Regions from separate parts of the Homo sapiens genome. Here region 2 is reported to be linked to region 1. Evidence: microRNA targets listed by miRTarBase, many of them from high-throughput screens and not tested one by one. Region 1 holds a microRNA gene; the other region holds the end of a gene's coding sequence.
The links. Region 1 holds the annotated microRNA hsa-miR-1267 (CCUGUUGAAGUGUAAUCCCCA, at 2,581-2,601, shown strand). A microRNA usually pairs through its seed, bases 2 to 8, with sites in the 3' UTR of a target mRNA and lowers its output. Matches are read on the target gene's strand: a 7mer-m8 pairs with bases 2 to 8, a 7mer-A1 pairs with bases 2 to 7 and ends in A, and an 8mer does both.

Region 1 (4,538 bases):
GACCTTAACGGAAGACATGATCCTGGATGGTGTCATGTTAGGCATCACAGACCCTCAACAAAAGACAGATTTGGGGGTGTTGCTTTGTTGGAGAGTGTGTTTTGTTTTGTTTTCTGAAAGATGGCCTTTGGAATACTTCCTCAAGTCCTTTCCTGGTAATTATGTGATTCACAGAATCTCTAATTTGAACAGTTATTAAAGAATATCTTCATTTGTTTGTGCTGCTGTAGCAAAATACCATACACTGTGTACTTTATAAAGAACAGAAATTTATTTTCTTACCATTCAAAAGGCAGGGAAGTCCAAGATCAAGGTGCAGGCATGTTCGGTTGTTGGATGAGGGCTGCCTCCTCTGTAGGGGAGGAAGGCTGTGTCCTCTCATGGCAGAGACCTGAAAGCCCTTTTCAGAAGGGCCTTATCCATTTATGGTGAAGGAGCCTCATGACCTAATCACCTTCCAGGGGCCCTGTCTTTCAATGCTGTCACTGTGGTGATTTGGTTTTAACATGAATTTTGGAGGATCTGACATTCAAACCATAGCAAAGAACCTACACTCACGTAATTATAGCACTCTGCATTTCAAATGTGTAAATTTCTATAAATGTTTCTAACAGTCACTTTACAAACAAAATATGTAAAACAGAGAAAAAAGAAAGGGGCAAAACTGAGCCTCATTAAAAGTTATGGTTATAACTCTCTTTTCGTGGGGATATTAATTTTAGTAGAATGAGTTAAATAAAAGTTTAAGTCAAAAAGAGAGGCAACAGCTGCCTCCAGTCAAAGTGTCTGGTTTCTAAATGATGTTTTAAATTTCCAGCTTAGCATGTATTCTTAATTTTTATATCATTTTTAATATGTTAATGGCTACTGTTTTTAGGTTGTTTTCTTAACAGTTCTGCAACTACCTTTAAGATGTTTTTTGAAGTCTAGGTGGCAATATTTTGTCTTCAGTTAATATAATTGCAATATTACGTTAGAAACTAGCACAAAATTATATTCCTGAATAATCTCTAAATTGCTAACTTTTCAGGGATTTATATTTTCTGAAAATTAACATTCTTGAGAATTTCATTAATGTCCCAGGCAAATCACATAAATGGACCAAACACATGAGACAGAAAAATTAAAGTTGAAATGAGGTCTATAAGAGATTCTCAAATATTTGAAATACCTCAAGTCAAAAGATATGAGTATATAAAAACTTCATGTAATATAATTTGATTAATTTTCCAGTAGTTTATGGAGTATGATTTTGGACTATACCACACTGTAAGCCTTAGGTTTTGTAATAACCTGAACTCTTGATATTTAAGAAGATAAATTTCATGTTTGTTGATGAGGAAGCACACACCACTAGAATGAACGCTTATTGGAAAAGCATTGTAACACTGAGAAAACACTAGCAATGAATGATTTTTCTTCATAGAGAAAGGAAGCAGCAAAACAGTCCATAATGAGAGCTCAGCCAAGGGAAACAAAAATCATTGAAATTTCTTAATAGATTCTTTAATACTGATTATTAGATAGAAGCATGTTTTACACTGTGGGAATCCATAAGATTTCAAAGAAAAAGATGCTGTTTTACTTTAAAATGTTGACCTTGAAAGGCTGTAGCTTTTTAAACTCTACTTTTGTTCACTTTCTTTCTCTTTCATTTTGTTCTTGGTTGTCTGCAAGAAACTTGGAGGAGAACCTAGCACATCAAAGGATTTAGTATACAAAAGGGTAGCTTGTAAGTCAGTTAAGAAACAAAGCATTTTCTATTAAATGCTTCTAGGATAACTCACTATTTGAGAGAAAATTTTCAAGTTAGGTAAGTATGCAAATTCAGCTGCGTTATGAACTTGATTGTGAAAAAGCCATGTTAGTCATCTAGAAAACAAATACGTAAATAGAAGATTGCAAAATGGCAGAGAAGTTTATAAGCATAAAATTAATTTTTAAAAATTCTAAGGGGAGTATCAGTAGATAATACTTCACATGACACAAAACTTTGGCATATCTAACACCATCATAAAAAAGATGCAAATGAGAAGCTGGAAAAATTACTTGCAACACGTATTCCAGTCAAACAACAACAAAAGAAGATGAGCATACTGAGATAAAAGTGGAAAAAAATACAGACAGACAACTCATAAAATGAAAAAAATACAAACATTTAATGTGAGTTTAACTAAAATGTACTGGTTTTGATGTTGAATAAACTGGGAAAATTAATAAGATAATATTGATGATTAGTGTCACTGATTATATTAGACCATTCTTGCATTGCTATAAAGGAATACCTGTGATTGCATAATTTATAAAACAAAGAGGTTTAATTGGCTCATGATTCTTCAGGCTTTATAGGACCCATGGTTCTGGCATCTGCTCGGCTTCTGGGGAGTCCTCAGGAGCTTACAATCATGGTGAAAGGTGAAGAAGGAACAGTCTTTGTCACGTGACCAGAGCCAGAACAAAAGAGAGAGAGTTGGGGGTAAGGTGCCATACACTCAGAAGAAGAGCTCACTCATCACCAAGAGGATGGCCCAAGCTATTCATGAGGGATCTGCCTCCGTGATCCAAATACCTCCCAAATCTCCTGTTGAAGTGTAATCCCCACCTCCAGCATTGGGGATTACATTTCAACATGAGATTTGGATGAGGACAAATATCCGGACTCCATCAGTGGTCAAGAACTTTTTATTTCTGGAGAGCTATGTTAAAATATATGTTAAAAGTCCATCCTCTTTAGTTCTGTAATTCCTAATATAGGAATGCATCCTAATAAAATATCTCAGATGTATATATATATATATATGTGAATGACAATGTTCAGCAGAGTTCTTTTTTAGGGTACAAAGACTATCCCTTTAACAGTTTTTACATAACTAAAATGTTTCCACTAAAAATCACAATAAAAATCGTCAGTGTTCTTTTCACATTTCAGGCAATCCTGCTGGTTTTCATATTATTTTTAAAACTTTATAAGGAGAATGGTGAAAATAGTTCATATATAACTTAGATGCTTGTTCTTTCTATATTGTCAGCTGCTTTTCACAAATGATTAGCCTCAGCTCTGGACAGATTTCAGCTTACATCAATATGATGTAAGTGATACTATGTTTTCTCTATAGCTGTGGTGATTTGCAATATTATTTTTGCCTCCTATTTGTCATGTAGTACCTGCTGGGCTGCCTCAACAGATAGTATTTGTACAATGGCATTTTTGTGTGGAATGAGTCCATCTTCTGCATACATCCACATGTTATGAATATACTAAAATGATCACAGGTCATACATAAAAATCTTGTCATTTAAAAAAAATCTTACAAATATTAAATTTAGAGGAATGTCTTAGATTTTGCTTCAGTCTATATGGATATACTTCATTCATTCAGCAAGTAATTTGCTGAGCACTTACTATGTATGATGTTTTCATGGCTCTGGGGATATAGTAGATGATCAAGTAGCTTAAAAGTATCCATGCTAGTGGTGGATATAGGTAGTAAATAGGAAACAAATATAAAAATAATTATGGATTGGGATATATGCTATGAAGTAAACAAAGGCAGACTATCTTGCTAGGATGGAGGTTTTGTCTTTGGACAGAGCTTTTAGGCCTCCTTAAGTAGATGACTGAGCTATAAAGCATAAGACTGAGCCTGCCTCATTAATAGGCAGGAGAGAGTGTCCCAGGGTGGAGAGAGAACAAGGTAAAGGTGCCCAGGTGGGGATTTGAGGGTTGGAGCTAAGGGAGCCCATATTGCTGAATAAGAGTGAGCTGTGGAAAGAAGGCATGAGTTAGCTATAGAACCCTTGCTTCTTATTCTTACTCTTGGGTATTAACAGTCATCTTCCTCTTGAAAGCTGAGAATAGCAGTTTAGGCAGATTGTGAGTTTGGCTTTGGTTCTTTATGGAAAGATACCTTGGAGTCCCATGGCCACTAGATGAAGGGATGTCAAGCATTGTAACTAGCCAACTGCATCCCTACCATGGATAGTTTCCAACATTCTGTTGCTCTTAGAAAGTCCTGAGACATCATCCTTTCCTTCAGGTGATGCCCGTTCCTCTCTCACATGGCAGTCAGAGCTTACGGAAGATCTAAAAAAAGGAAAAAGATGTAATTAATTCATCACATCTTCCAATCATCACACACACATTGCAATGGGAGCCAAGCTGGTGAATGGTTGGCTACTGTCCTGCGGGGCCATCTTGGAAGAGCTGGAAGTCAGCCTTGCTGGCCTTTTATCTGGAAGTCCAGATTAGACCACTGAATTGCACACATCTAGGACATATAGTGTGAATATTGAGGGTTGTATGAAAAGTCAAAAGCAGAAAGTTTGAGGAACATCTAAGATTACCAAATAATTTGCTGTTTCATTAATGTACTTTGCTTGCTTAAATCTCCGTTTTCAAATTCCCTTTCTGCCATCTGGGGCATTCTCTTTCCTGACTGCCTACCCAATTGCTACTCATCTTTTTTATCTGAAGGCCTGGATCGGTGAAGTGATTCTGAAAGTCATACAACTTGTTAATACCAGAGCTATGGTCTCGT
Region 2 (4,000 bases), not on the chromosome of region 1:
CTTGGAACAGATTCATTCAGATAGTGGGTGGAAATGTACATGTATGGTAAGCATTGCTGGCCTAGTCACTGAAAAATGTAAACTCTTATTTTTGATTGCAGGTGGAAGTTAAGCCATATGTCTTGGATGATCAGCTGTGTGATGAATGTCAGGGGGCCCGTTGTGGGGGGAAATTTGCTCCATTTTTCTGTGCTAATGTTACCTGTCTGCAGTATTACTGTGAATATTGCTGGGCTGCTATCCATTCTCGTGCTGGCAGGGAATTCCACAAGCCCCTGGTGAAGGAAGGCGGTGACCGCCCTCGGCATATTTCATTCCGCTGGAACTAAAGGATAACTGCAGTGCTCATTTTCAGGCCTCAGAATAAGTGCACTCTTCTGTTCATTCTGACCCCTTCCTCAACCTCTTCACGCTGGCATGTCCTTTTGTAGCAGTCTGTAACTTAACTATAGTATAATGAAAAGAATGACCTATAATATAGGTGTTTTGTAGATTCTTGTGTCACTGCAAACAATATGAACTCCTTTTTCGTATTGCCATCGGGTTGCATGGAAGTTTTATTCTCTTGTTTTGCTGGAAACCAAGAGGATCCAAACTTCCTGCAACATTTTCTTAGAGGAGAGAGAGAAATATTAAAAGAGAAATGAAACAATAGAGTATTTTGGGTTTTTAATTAAATTATTGTTAATAATATAACATATAAGAATACTTTTATTAAAATAACCATGCAACAATAACACTATCGGTCTATCTGACAGTTTTTCCCCCAGGGAAGTGCTTTTGCCTTTTCCTTTCTTTTTTTTTTTTTTTTCATCTTTTTTGTCTCTCTCTTTTTTCCATCCCTTTTTAATTTTTTTAACAGCAATGGAGGAAGTTAACAATTTTTAATGGAAAGAGCATGTTAGAGCAAACAAATGCATAAGCAAGACTGAGCAGCATTATAATTAATTTTCAGGGTTTTGAGGCTGAACATAATTTCATTATCCCTCAAAAAGTTACCACCACATCAGAAAAAATAAAAAAAAAATAGTAAAGTAGGCAGAGCTAGGTTTATTTTCTCTTAAACAATTTTTAAAATTCAGAATGTAAAAATTGGGTAAATTTACTACTGAGGGGAGTGCACTTATTTATTTAACTTACTTATCTGGTCAAAGCCCCAGGAAACCTACCAAAGCTAGAATTAATGACAACTGGTGGGAAACCTAGCATTTCCTCTCCTGAAGAATAAATGTATAAATGTTATTTTTGATGTTTATATATAAACTCTATATCCTAATTTACTAATACTCATCAGATGTCAGCCTTTGCTCTCCATTTTGACGTTAAAAAACAACAACAGATCTAGAGATACCTCAAGGATATCATTTTTGATTTTGTGTTACAGTACACTTGTAGCCAAAACTGGAAGACAAAACCAATATATAATTTGGCTGCTGATTGGCTTACTTTTAGATTTAAAGTTACTTTGGGTATCCTGTAATTTAGTTGTAACATAGAAAATGAAAAAACAGTTAAAAAAAGTGAAGTAGTTGCAAAGTGTTTTGCACTGTTGAACTAAGTAACTGTGTAAATCTGTGCAAAGGTACGTATGTTTATCTTACTCTTCCTATAAACTAAAATAACATTACAGTTTCCGAATTTAGCATGGGACATAGTCAGTGTTTGAAGTGCCAACTTCATCAAGTAATGCATGCTTTATTATAAATAAAATTCTAGCTTTGAAAGGCGTTATGTGTTGAACAGTATGCTTCAGGGGTAAATTTAAAATAGTCTCTTGAAGCCCTAGTCATGGAAGTAACTTTTATTTTAATTGACATTCTCTTATTAAATGCCCTATCCATCATTAAAAGGTTTATTATCAGTGGGCAAAACATGAAATAATATGATCGAATGGCAATCTTGCTAGTTGCGCTACCTAACAGTACCATCTTGGATCCTTCAAAACCAAAGACTTGCCCCAGCACTGCTGTGGAACCACCTGGCTTATGACCCCTATGGATGATCTTTAGGAAAAGCAGCCCTTTACTTTTAATACAGGCTTTAATGAACTATACCTGTTAAGTTCCAAAGGTCAAAATGGAGGCATTTGCTGTCTAATATTCAAACATAGAAAGGGAGCTGCTTTTAAAGAATTCCCTGCAAATACTGAAAGCAGTCATGCGAATGGAGGGTGCTCTTGTGTAGCTGGTCAGGGACTTTTTTTTCTTTTCTCCTGAACTACATGATTCTAATTGGAATGTTCATTTGCCTCTTTTTACTCTTTTAAATGCTTGTAGGTGGCTTGGGGTGTGCTATCGTGCTGTTCCTACTCAGTAAACAGGTGTGATGAGTTAACAAGAAATAACACTGTTTGAGAACTAGCTTTGAATAATAATTTTTCCCTTTGTACATGACCTGCTGAATTTCGGTACAGTGTTTTTGTAGCTAACTTATTTTGTCATGCACATAATGTATATTTGTTATGCACTACTTTTGTATATCTTGTTTTTCCAACAGTGAACATTTTTAGGCACACTTTTCACTGACGGGATATCTCTTTATGCAATACCTCAATTTTTCATATTGCAAAGAGTAGCTTTTTGTACTTTTATTACTGAGAGATCTTCATATACTTCATTTTTTAATATAAATAATTTTAATAAATTTTATTTTCTTATATTCTGCTTTTTATACATTTCAGTGCTCTGCATACATTTTAAATTATGAATGTCGTGCACTGGCAATGCTATTTTAGAGTCTGCAGAGAAGAGAAAGCATGTTGCTTAAACATCCTTCCCCAGCACCAGCTATTGGTGTACCTATAATTTAAGAAATAGTCTATGTAAAGTCACAAATTAATGAAAAAAATTCGCATGAAAATGACAGATAACACTGTAGTTCCTAAAAAAAAAATTAAATGCATAAGCATAAGGTAGAAATTAAAATAACAAAATTGTCTACAGCTTCTTACTAAGTTTTTAAAATTATTCATAAAATGCAGACATTTTTGGTGAATGTTTAGCCATTTTTAATATTAATAAATTGATGTTAAGTGTTTGATTCAGAGATGTCTGCTCTTTTAAATTATATATAAGGAAAAAAAATAGCCTGCCTTGGGACAGGTGTGTAATGTTAGTGTGCATGACTAATGTAAGAAATTGTTATTCTACTAATATTTACTTGTGATTGTGTGACAAGTGTGTTTACAGATTATTGGTTACACTTCAATTTACAGGGCATAAACAATGATTATCTATTACTCTGAACTTTATGATTACATGTTCTTCAGATTACATGGGATTGTAGTTGGGAGTTACCATGTAACTCAAACATAATTAACATGTAATTAGTTTACAGATTGTAGGGCATCACTTCAATTCACCAAGCATGTAGTTCTAGCGCACTAGCATGGCGCCAGCCATGTACTTACAATGTAGTTACAGAGTAATTACATGGTGATTTTTGCAATGTAAAATAAAGTGTTTCTGATTATTTTCTATGTAAAGGAACCCTCTCCTTTCCCCTTCTGGTCCCTGCGCTTTGGTATAATATATATACTTCTCCATACACAGACCTCTGCAGAATGCAAAATAAAACTTGCAGTGAATGAATTTAGCATTTTATGAGAGTGCTGTTGGAAAGACTTGATAATTCACCCCTTTTGTTTTGAAGAGTTGAATCTTCTGTTAAAAGGTGATTTAAAACTTGAATGTGATGAATTGTGGCAAGTTAACTTCAAGTTATGTGCAATACTTATTTCAAACTTTTGAAAGATCTTTGCAGTGTAATTCTTTGTTTTTAATTGCAGACATTTAAAAATGTCATTTTCTACTGTTAAGAGTAATCCTCTTTCTTGCTGGTGTTTCTAAAGAAAAGAATCAGAAATCAATCTTTCTACTAATGTAAATTTGAGATTATTTTTAAAAATGGAATAAAAGAGGTTTTGGTCATTTGCTTTATTTTATTATTTTAAAGCTACTGTGATTGATAGCATTGTAAGAATCGGGACAATATTGTATTC

Region 2: the mRNA of CPEB4 is a reported target of hsa-miR-1267. Seed matches in the 3' UTR shown: 7mer-A1 at 1,334-1,340.

The regions. Positions count from the first base shown.
Region 1 is chr13:107,529,280-107,533,817 of GRCh38, reverse strand. MIR1267 (microRNA 1267) reads left to right here and starts at 2,570; the gene lies at 2,570-2,647. The region is part of intron 1 of NALF1 (NALCN channel auxiliary factor 1); the gene reads left to right. LOC112268110 (a long non-coding RNA gene) reads left to right here. Exons shown (of 3, transcript XR_002957493.2): 1 at 1-4,538.
Region 2 is chr5:173,955,809-173,959,808 of GRCh38, forward strand. It overlaps CPEB4 (cytoplasmic polyadenylation element binding protein 4), which reads left to right. Exons shown (of 10, transcript NM_030627.4): 10 at 102-4,000. The coding sequence ends at 329. Among named protein-coding and RNA genes, the nearest start is that of C5orf47, 31 kb to the right of the region's middle.